Linked DNA regions of Homo sapiens: region 1 is linked to region 2. The links come from fine-mapping of genetic effects on gene expression. A gene starts in region 2. The other region holds a variant in brackets. All regions are shown on one strand. Distances are from middle to middle.

Evidence for each region.
Region 1: its variant is fine-mapped to the expression of TRIM9 in whole blood (TOPMed, PIP above 0.99).

Annotation. Positions count from the first base shown.
Region 1 is chr14:50,965,433-50,970,808 of GRCh38, forward strand. No RefSeq gene overlaps it. Among named protein-coding and RNA genes, the nearest start is that of PYGL, 24 kb to the left of the region's middle. The variant C/A (reference allele first, on the strand shown) is at 2,549.
Region 2 is chr14:51,092,078-51,097,453 of GRCh38, forward strand. It overlaps TRIM9 (tripartite motif containing 9), which reads right to left and starts at 3,028. Exons shown (of 13, transcript NM_001387360.1): 1 at 2,041-3,028. The coding sequence starts at 2,862. RefSeq lists a silencer at 3,020-3,089.

The DNA of each region.
Region 1 (5,376 bases), 130 kb before region 2:
CTCTGATAAGACCCGATATTCATCAGTTCCTGCTACCTTGATCCCCAGAGCTGCCCTCGTTCCCATCTTTCTGAGCTGCCCCATGTCTTTCTCGCATATTCCTTCTATGCCTTTAGGTCAGCCACAGTCAGGTTGGGTGTTTTTGTAGCCAAAGATTCCTATCTGGCACACCTGCCTGGCAGGGCCTCCCTGCAGTGGTCCCTCAGTGTCTGCGGGGGCATTGGTTCCAGGACCTCCCTGAGATACTGAAATTCACAGATACTCAAGTCCCTGATATAAAATGGTGTAGCATTTTCATATAACCTCAGCAGGCTGGGCTCTCCACCCTCCTTCCTCTCACTGCATGCACCTCACCCTCACTAACTCTTTGACTTACTGGGCTTGTTCCCGCCTCAAGGCCTTTACCCCTTCCCTTGGTCTTGGCTTCTTCAACCCAAATATAACCCCTTCAGAGAGGTAATTGCTGACTTTTCCATATCTCTCTATCTCATAGCCTGTTGGATTTCCTGTGTTGTATTTATTAAGACTTAAAATGATTTTGATCTTTACTTATTATTTCCCTATTTGAATATCAGCTCTAAGAACGTAGGGACCTTGTCTATTTTATTCACTGGTATTCCCAGTAATAGCATTGTTACAACAGCATTTATCACTTAATAGGTGCTCATTAAATATTAATCGTATGAATGAGTGTGTTGTCTGTGGTACATCCTATGTGTAGCAATCATATGTCATATAACCTACAGGTTAAGAGCCTGTGTCTTGGAGTCAGACTATTTGGGTTCAAACCCTGGCTGTCATACTTGTATACTGTGTGACTTTGGGCAAGTTGCTTAACCTCTTGTGCTTCAGTTTCTTCATTTCTAAAATGGTAATAATAAAAATGCATAAGTAAGATGAAGGGTAAGTAAGATGATTCACTAAAAGCCCTTGGTACATTGCCTGGAAAACAATAAGATTCAATATTTGGCAACTTACATTATTAGAGCACGGTTGTCTCTCCATATCCGTGAAGCCTTGGTTTCAGGACACCCCTGGGATACCAAAATTCACAGATAGTTAAGTCTCTGATATAAAATGGTGTAGCATTTGCATGTAACATATGCAAATCCTCCTATATACTTTAAATCTCTAGATTACTTATAATACCTAATGCAATGTAAATGCTTTGTAAATAGTTGTTATGCTGTATTCCTTTTATTTGTATTATTTTTCTTGTTTTTTTAATTTCCTTCCCAGCATTTTCAACCCAAGCTTGTTTCAATGCACCCATGTGGAACCTGCGGATATGATGAGTGATTGGATTTCTCAATTGTAAGAAGTTCTAGTTAGAGATTGTATGATGCACTACTGGCTTAATAGTAGCTCTTTTGGCCGGGCATGGTGGCTCACGCCTGTAATCCCAGAACTTTGGGAGACCGAGGCAGGCGGATCACCTGAGGTCAAGAGTTCAAGACCAGCCTGGCCAACATGGTGAAACCCCGTCTCTACTAAAAATACAAAAATTAGCCTGGCATGGTGGCGTGTGCCTGTAGTCCCAGCTACTCAGGAGGCTGAGGCAGGATAATTGCTTGGACCCGGGAGGTGGAGGTTGCAGTGAGCCAAGATCGCACCACTGCACTTCAGCCTGGGCAATAAGAGTGAAACTCTGTCTCAAAAAAAAAAAAAAAAAAAAATGGAACTGTTTTGGAGAAAACCAAAGCCAAGTTCAACATTTAATATATACCACTTGGGAAAACTCTACTTACAATAGCATGCATTATCTGCCACAATACATGCTACTTTGCTCTTCAGACTAACAAACACAATTCGGTCCCCAAGTACCTCTGTATCAAGCAGGGCCACTGGCAGTTATACGTAATGTAATGATTACCCTTGCACGAGATCTGGACCTTGCTAGCATATTTGTGAGGCTGCAGAATAATTTAAAGAATGCAGTGGGATTATGTGTGTGTTTTTTTCTTTCTTTCTTTTCTTTTTTTTTTTTTTTTTGCATTTCTCTTTTGGCTATTTTGTTTGTATTGCTACTGTTAACTGAATTATAAATAATAGGAAATAAAGAGCTTCTGGGAAGTAGCTGGAAGCTTTTGACAGATTTAGACATCTGAATGATAGCTCTTCACATATCAGTTGGTCCCAAAAACTTTTCCTAGATTTCAAAAATTTGTGATTTGTTCTCAGCATCTTGACAATTTTATTAATTATATTATCCAGTGTATGACTATTTCAATTGTATATTATCCAGTGAATGATTATTAATTTTATGCATGTACAATATATTTTTTCATTTCTATACTGCATTATAATGGGATCTTTTAAAAGACCTTTTAAGTGATAATTAAGATGTGAATTTAAGTTTATCAACTTTCAAAGGAAATAACAAGTAACAGAATGATGAAATTGTTAGCTGGTGTAATGCCTCTGTGACATAGCTGAATTTCTGCTCTGCCCTAACACTGCTTTAAGAAACAGGATGCCTGCAATAAAAAGTTCCCTTTGTAACCGGAACAGTTGAGACTGGTTAGAACCAAAATAGCTGAGCAAATGA[C/A]TTCAGAAAGAACTCGGGCTTCATTATAATCTCATTTCCATGCTAAATGACACTCTGACCATCACCATAACAGTGGACAATTGCTAGGACAATGACCAGAAGAAGCTATAAAAGGACAAAAAAGGAGGAAGGCATCACTCCAGTTCTGGGAAGTTCACTGACCCTTTCCAGAAAAGACCTGAGTCTTCCTCTTTTCATTTTCCTTTCTTTTTTTTTTTGAGACAGAGTCTTGCTCTGTTACCCAGGCTGGAGTGCAGTGGTGCCATCTGGGCTCCCTGCAACCTCCGCCTCCCAGGTTCAAGTGATTCTTCTACCTCAGCCTCCCAAGTAGCTGGGATTACAGGTGCGTGCCACCACACCCAGCTAATTTTTGTGTTTTTAGTAGAGAAGGGGTTTCACCATATTGGCCAGGCTGGTCTTGAACTCCTGACCTCGTGATCCATCCACCTTGGCCTCCCAAAGTGCTGGGATTACAGGTGTGAGCCACCGTGCCCGGCCCCTCTTTTCATTTTTAATGTCCATCCTCTTCGTTAGAGAAACTCTTTATTTGCACCCCTCACCCCTCACTGGTCAAGAAGTTGATTTGTGAGCCATGCTTCCACTTCTTAATTCCATGGCCATTGAATAAAGCCTGCTCTACTTGACAATTTTAGTTTTGTGTATTGGCTTCATGACACTGAACATGGAAAGACTTCATGTTTTGAGGGATCCACTTTGTTGGTTATAAGATGATGCCCCCCATCTTATTGTTTTTCCAAATGTGTAGGCAATAAAAACTTTGCTGAGTATACACTACCCACTCATTCCTTACCTCTGGGCTGTCAGCTCTAGACACACATTAGAATCACCTTACAAATTCCAGATTCTCAGGCTGCATCTTAGACCAACTAAATTAGTAACCTGGCATCAGTATTCTTTCTTTCTTTATTTTTTTTTGAGACGGAATCTCGCTCTGTCGTCTAGGCTGGAGTGCGGTGGCGCGATCTCGGCTCACTGCAAGCTCCGCCTCCCGGGTTCACGCCATTCTCCTGCCTCAGCCTCCGGAGTAGCTGGGACTACAGGTGCCCGCCACCACGCCCGGCTAATTTTTTTTGTATTTTTAGTAGAGACAGGGTTTCACTGTGTTAGCCAGGATGGTCTCGATCTCCTGACCTCGTGATCCGCCCTCCTCGGCCTCCCAAAGTGCTGGGATAACAGGCGTGAGCCACCGCACCCGGCAGCATCAGTATTCTTAAAGTTCCCCAGATGATTTCAGTGTGCAGTGGAGGCTGAGAACCACCACTCTATCAATGGCTGAAGAGTGTCTTTCTTTCTTTTTTTTTTTTTCTGCGACAGAGTCTCGCTTTGTCACCAGGCTGGAGTGCAGTGGCACAATCTCAGCTCACTGCAATCTCCACCTCCCGGATTCAAGCGATTCTCCCGCCTCAGCCTTCTGAGTAGCTGGGATTACAGGCATGCACCATCACACTCGGCTAATTTTTGTATTTTTAGTAGAGACGGGGGGTTTCACCATGTTGGCTAGGCTGGTCTCGAACTCCTGACCTCAAGTGATCCACCCGCCTTGGCCTCCCAAAGTGCTGAGATTACAGGCGTGAGCCACCACCGCTCCCAGCCTAAAGAGTTTCTTTTGACATGTGTTGTAAGATGTGTCTTGATTTGAGAGATGTTAAGGTGTAAAAAACAAAACAAAAAAACCAGCTGGGTCTGGTGGTTCACGCCTTTAATCCCAGCATTTTGGAAGCCCGAGGCAGGAAGATCCCTTGAGACCAGGAGTTCAAGACCAGACTGGGCAACATAGCAAGATTCCATCCCTACAAAAAATTTTAAAATTAGCCAGTAGTGGTGGTATGTGCCTGTAGTCCCAGCTGCTCAAGAGGCTGAGTCAGGAGGATCCCTTGAGCCCAGAAGTTTGAGGCTGCAGTGAACTATGATCATGCCACTGCGTGCCAACCTGAGTGACAATGTGAGACCTTGTCTCTCAAAACAGAAACACAAAACACAACCCTTGCATCTGAGAAATAAGAAAATTGTAATTGCTATTATTAGTCTAGCCCTAGAAGGATTCAGACCATGAAAAATATCATATTGGGTCAGATCAATTTTGTGGGACAACTGATGTTCCTTAGTTGTTCTCCTTTTACAGTGTCTTTGACATTGTTTACTAGGAGTGCACCCCATGTATTATAAAGCTTCCTTTGGTTACTGCCAGACACCTGGCAAGAGCTTAGAAATGAAGCTTGATGCATAAAGGAAAAAAAAAAGGAAAAAAGGGAAACAAAACAAAAAGCATGGTGTGTGATGCGTGTGAATCTCCTGGTCACTGGGTGCACCCTTGTATCCTGTACTCTTTTGGGCCCCTGATTTCACATCCCAACTCCCCTTGGAGTTTGAGGTCAGCCTGACCAACATGGAGAAAACCCGTCCCTACTAAAAATGCAAAATTAGCTGGGCTTGGTGGCACATGCCTGTAGTCCCAGCTACTTGGGAGGCTGAAGCAGGAGAATCGCTTGAACCTGGGAGACAGAGGTTGCGGTGAACCGAGATCATGCCATTACACTCCAGCCTGGGCAACAAGAGCGAAACTGCGTCTCAAAAAAAAAAAATAGACTCAGTGTTTCATCTGATTCCTTGGGATTCTCGCTTTCCCCATCCCTAAGGCAAGGAGAGCAGATGCTCAGATTCTCTTAATATCAAAGCAAAGTGTCCCCTTAGCTAGGATGATAGCTAGCTTAGCCTCAGCATATGTGTTAATTCTTGGTCTGACTTGAAATCTTGAAGATGTGGAATTTGATAGTGGCATGGAGGTTTGGCTGGACCTCAGAAATTTT
Region 2 (5,376 bases):
CAAGGATACTTTGTAGGGCAATTCAACATGGACTATAATTAGCAGTTTAAAAGTGAAATCAAAATATGAATAAAAAACTAGCTGTGAACTCAAGTTTTGAAAACTTTCAAAATTAAATGTCATTTTCAAAAATTTAAATTCGACTGTTCTGAAAACAGTGGTGTGTGCCCAGTTAGGCTTCAATTTGTGCTAAATGAAATCCCCATCAGTACTAATATGATTTAATAGGTTATATGTGAGAATAGAATGACTGTAAACATGGATCACATTCAACCGGGTTAAGGAGTTGAGAAAACTTTCACTGATTGCTGAAAATTAATGACATTTTTTTCTTGCTGTAAACAAAATATCAATGTTCCAGCCTTAACTCCACAGTTGGCCACTTGCAAAAGCTACCCTTTCTAGTCTCCAAGGAATTCTGGGAGACTCTGAGCAAGGCCACAGCTGAGGCCTGGACACTATCTTCACTGCTCCATCTCATCCTTGGGTATGCAACTCAGTGATGTAAAGAAAAGCTCCTTCCAACCATCCTGAATCCCTGCCCTGCACTCCACAGCCCCAACTAAATGGATCATTTAAAAAATGAAAAGCAAATTCATGCACATCTCCTCAAGAGTTGCTCCCTTCCTTCTAAGCAGTGTGGGCATATTATAAGGATCTTCTTCCTCATGAGGCTTATTTCGTTTATGTCTGTGTGTGTACAGGGAGCAATAGATAAATACAAAAAATAACATAATTAAAATATATAGCATGCCACACAGGGATAAATACTACTGAGGAAAATAAAGCTGAGAGGGAACTAGCGGGTGTCTGGGTGGGTGGCGCTGCAAAGATGATACCTGAGCAAAGAGCTGAAGGATGCAGGTAAGTGACCCATTCGGATCTCAGGTAACTGGGGAAGAGAGCTTCAGGCTGAATGAACACCAAATGCAAAGGCCCTGGAGTAGGGAGGTGCCTGGCGTCGTTTGAGGAACAGTAAGAAGCAGTGTGGCTGGAGCAGAGGGAGTAAGTGGGAGGCAATGAGGTCGAAGGGGCCAAAATGGAAGAGGTCATGTAGGACAGGCTGAGAAGCGTGGGAAAAATTGGAGGGTTTTGAGCAGAGGAGTGGCACGACAGAATATGTTGCTAAAGCCTCTTCGTGTCTAGCCATGGTGGAAATATCATCAAAAGAGACTGGAAAGATAAATCTGGTAACAGGTGTCCCAAAGTTTGCACATATAACTACTGAAAGAGGAAAGGGCTTGAATTCCGGAGAAGTGGGTGTGTGTATAGTTGGGAGGAGAAGGTTTCCCTAGGAGATGCACCTGTCTGGCTTCCAGGCCGCGACTGCGCAAACTCCGGTCCTGACACTCTAGTCTCAGGTCCCAACTCCGGAAGGGTTCAGGCCCAAGCCTGCACGTCGCGTTGCCATGGCGACCGCTGGCTGCCCTCTCCGCTCTGTCTTTTGAGCACGTGGCACCAGGACCCCGCGTTCTCTCCAGCTCGAGAGCCAGGTCTGGCCCAGAGCCGGGCTCATCAGTATTCCGCCTGCGGCGTCTCCCCGACCCTCCGCCGTGCCTCACCAGGTCCGCCTATCCAGCAGCGACAGACTCCCGCCGTCCGCGCGACCCCACCGCCCCCATCCCAGTCCCTCCCCGAGGGTTCGCAGCCCGCCCTGCCCTCGAGCGTGCCTAGCGGCCCTGGGCACTGGCGCGGCTCTACCCAGCTATGCAGTGCTTTCCCACACACTGGCCGCGGCCACTGGCTGCAGACCCGCCGCGGAAAGGGGGCGCCCTGAGTCCCGCTCGCAGGCAGCGCGCCCCGAGAGACCCGCTCTAAGGCATCCCCGCAACAACTCTGTGGGGGCATTCAACTCCCCCGTGCGCCGGTTAAGATTCCCCCATGCCTCCTGCAATGCACCAGACCAGGGAGGTAAACATCGAAGGCACCTGCATTGCGCCCCCACTGGGATGCGCTGTGCGCAAGAGACGGGGACCGTCTGCTGCAAAACCGGATGATCGGAGACGCAGGGAGTTAGGAGTGGGTTTTCTTAGGACTCACCTTATGTAGTTTCCACATGGCCCCCAGAGCCTTGACTTCGTGGCTGGAGTGTTTGCCCTCCTCCAAGCACTGGTAGCACACGGGCATCTTGCATTGCACGCAGTACATGCTGTGGTTCTCCAGCTCGTGGTCTGTGCAGGTGGAGACCTTGCGTGGGCTCAGCCTCCGGCTCACACGACCCTGGGCCGGGGGCACCAGGCGGTGCTTGGCTAGGGGCCCCCGGGGCGGGTGGCAGCGCAGGCGGCACGGATCGCAGTAGAAGACATCGCACTGTTCGCACATGACGGTGGCTTCCTTGGGCGCCTTCTCGCAGAGCTGGCACTTGAGGGCCGCGGCTTTGCTCTGCTGGTAGCGGTCAATTACCCCTTCCAGTACGCGATTCTTGGGGAAGCCGCGGAGCCCCCGGTCATCCAGGATGAGGCTGCGGTGACACTGGGGGCAGGTGATACAGGAGTTGCGGGGCACCGGGGCCAGGGCCGGTGACAAGTGGGTGGCCGGTGGCGGCATAGCCGGGGGAAACACGCGGACGCCGTTGGGGGACTTCTGGCACGGGGTAGTGGGGGCGCTGGCGAACCCCCCGTAGGAGCCATAGCCGCTGTCCGCCTCGCTGTATAGGCTCATCTTGTCCAGGTCCAGATAGTCATAGTCGGAGACCCCGGAGCCCGCGGCCCGATGGCTCTGGGGGGATTCAGACTCTGGGGTCTGCACCAGGATGTTGCGGGCGCACGCCTGACACAAATTGTGAGAGCAGGGCAGGATGATGGGCTCCCGATAGAAGGAGCCGCACACGGGGCATTTCAACTCCTCTTCCATCTCCTCCATGGGGACCGGTCTGGGAGGAGACAGCGACGGCTGCAGCGGGTGCCTGAGCTGGCGAGGTGGCCGACGGGCCCGTCTTGTCCAGCACCCTGGCCAGCGGCGGCGGCTGTGGTGGTGGTGCCTTCCCGCGCAGCACTGGCACGGACACCCAGAGAGGCGCTAGCTCTGTGAGCCGCAGCCGCGTAGCCGCCGCGCCGCGCGCCAGCCCGGACCGCCCCTACCTGCCCTCCTAGTCCCGCCCCGGCCCATGAGCAGCGGCCCATTGGGCGGGGGGCAAGAGATCGAAGCTCTCATTGGCCACCAGACCCGTCCGTCTCCTCGTCTCCGCAGGCCACAGGGGGTTCGGTAGAGTCTGAGGATAGGGCAGTCTTCGCTCGCGGCTGCAAGATCTCTGAAGGGGGCCGGCGTGCGGAGGCTAGGGGACCGGGAAGGAGGAGTTAGGCGGGATGATTCATCCTCGCCCGGCTTACTTCCGACCTCCGGTGCAGTCTCCCAGGAGCTGGGGGCGTGAGAAACCCCTCCCCGCAGCGAGTGGGCTGCCGGAGGGGGCTGGGGCTTCTCGCCAGCGTTTGCGTTTGGCTCCCAGCTCTGAGCTCCGCGCCCACCTACCGCGGGCGAGTGCTGCGCAGCACGGAGGACGCCCCTTCTCTTCCGCTGCTGGCAGCCTTCGCAGGCGTCTCACCCGGGCCTAGGCTTCTGCACGGCAGTGGGGCTTTTCTCCTTCTCCGTGAATCCGCTGACGCCGTGCCCTGGAGCTCCCCCATCCCGGGAGTCTGACGGCGCTGGCGCAAGCCCTGGCGACACTCTTGGCTTCTTTCATCCTGCGTCCCTCGTTTCCTAAAGAGCATGTATAAAGTCGATTTCCTAGTGTCGACATGAGATTCAACTGGGTAACCGATGGAAATGGTCAGCATTAGTCAGAATCTATGACCCCTTCGTTTCATGCTTTAAATTATAGCTCGGCCCAGAGGCCTCAGTGCCGTGGTGTGAACGTGCTTCCTTCCACGGATCCTTCTTCCTCCTCGCGGCCTCCCAAAGCACCTGGCTGAGCTTTTTCGAGGCCCGCTGGGCCTTTGGTTCGGTTGAGGCAAGAACAGTTTGTCTATTTCTGAGTGCCCGTAGTTTAGTAAAGCTCTGTAAATGAATCACTGTGTGACTGCGGAGTCTCAGTGTTTCACTCCAAACAGCATTATTCAACCCCACGTGCCCTGGGCATCTGCCATAGCTTACAGCATCGTGTGCCTTTCTGTTTCTTCCAACGAGGGGCATGGTGAGGCGGTGATTCTAGTGTTAGTCCCTGTACAAGGAGGGAGGGAGGGAGGGAAGAAGGGAAAGAGGGAGAGAGGGAGGAAGGAAGGGGGGGGGAAAGGAAAGGCGGAAGGAAGGGAAGAAAGGGAGGGAGGAAGAAGAAAAGGAAAGGAAAATCTTTGAGTCAAGTGACATTCTGAGGTAGTAACATTTGAAATAGTACATAGCCGGCTTTTGCTGAATGATTCATGAAGTAAAGGACAAAAACTCTTTGCAAGTTCTAGAAATATTCCAATTTTCCACCTTCCAGACAGGAGATAACTTGATTATATGCAGCTATGTTGATAATTTAAAAGTACTTTATTGTCCAGAAAAAAAATGGACATTTTATTACACTGCCCTTGTAGAAATTGTCCAATAAACTAGGTTATCTTTTCAACATCTTTAGTTGCAGTGAGAACAGTAGTTGATCATTGTGTGGGGGAATAAAGTCCCCATTGTTATTTAAAGCCATGTTAATCATAAATGTGACGTGATTTATTTTTAAGCTGGCTTTCAACTAGTTGAGACCAGAGCATCCAAAGGTATATGCACTCTGTTTACAGACATAGATAAAATTTCTTCAGGTATGGTTGGGACATTAGCTGCACTTGCAGGATACACTTAATTTATAGGTCCCAAGAGAAATTACTAATAATTATATTCAATATAGTATTAATTGAATTGTAATGAAAGTTAATTATTGAGAAAATATTAGAAAGGAGTGTCCTTTTATGGCTTTTGTATGCATTTGACCACAAGTCACAATATCTTGGACCAGCAAGGTGAGCAGCTGTTACACTTTGTATGAGTTTGAACTCTGCTTATAATAGTATATCATCTAAGAGATCTTATTAGCAGAAAGTTTATGCTTAGTTCAAAGTAAAGAAGAATTTTAGAGGATGTCTCATGGTGTAATGCAGTGTTGGGTTCGCAAAAAGAACAACACAGGTTTATAATATAGTCAATATAGAAAGATTTGGTCTATTATGAAGTCGCTTGAGATGATTTCATTGTTAGATCTGTTTGTTTAGGAATTAGCTAAATCAGTCAATCCTAGGAGAGCTCTTAAAATGACTCATTTGTTGAGAGTTCACCCTGTTCCAAACAGGGGATTTATTTATTTGTATACATTACTTGGTTAAATCCCTGTAATTACAAGAAGAGGTAGGCACAATTATTCCCATTTTACAGATAAATAAACTGAAGATAAGCAAAGACACTTAAGTA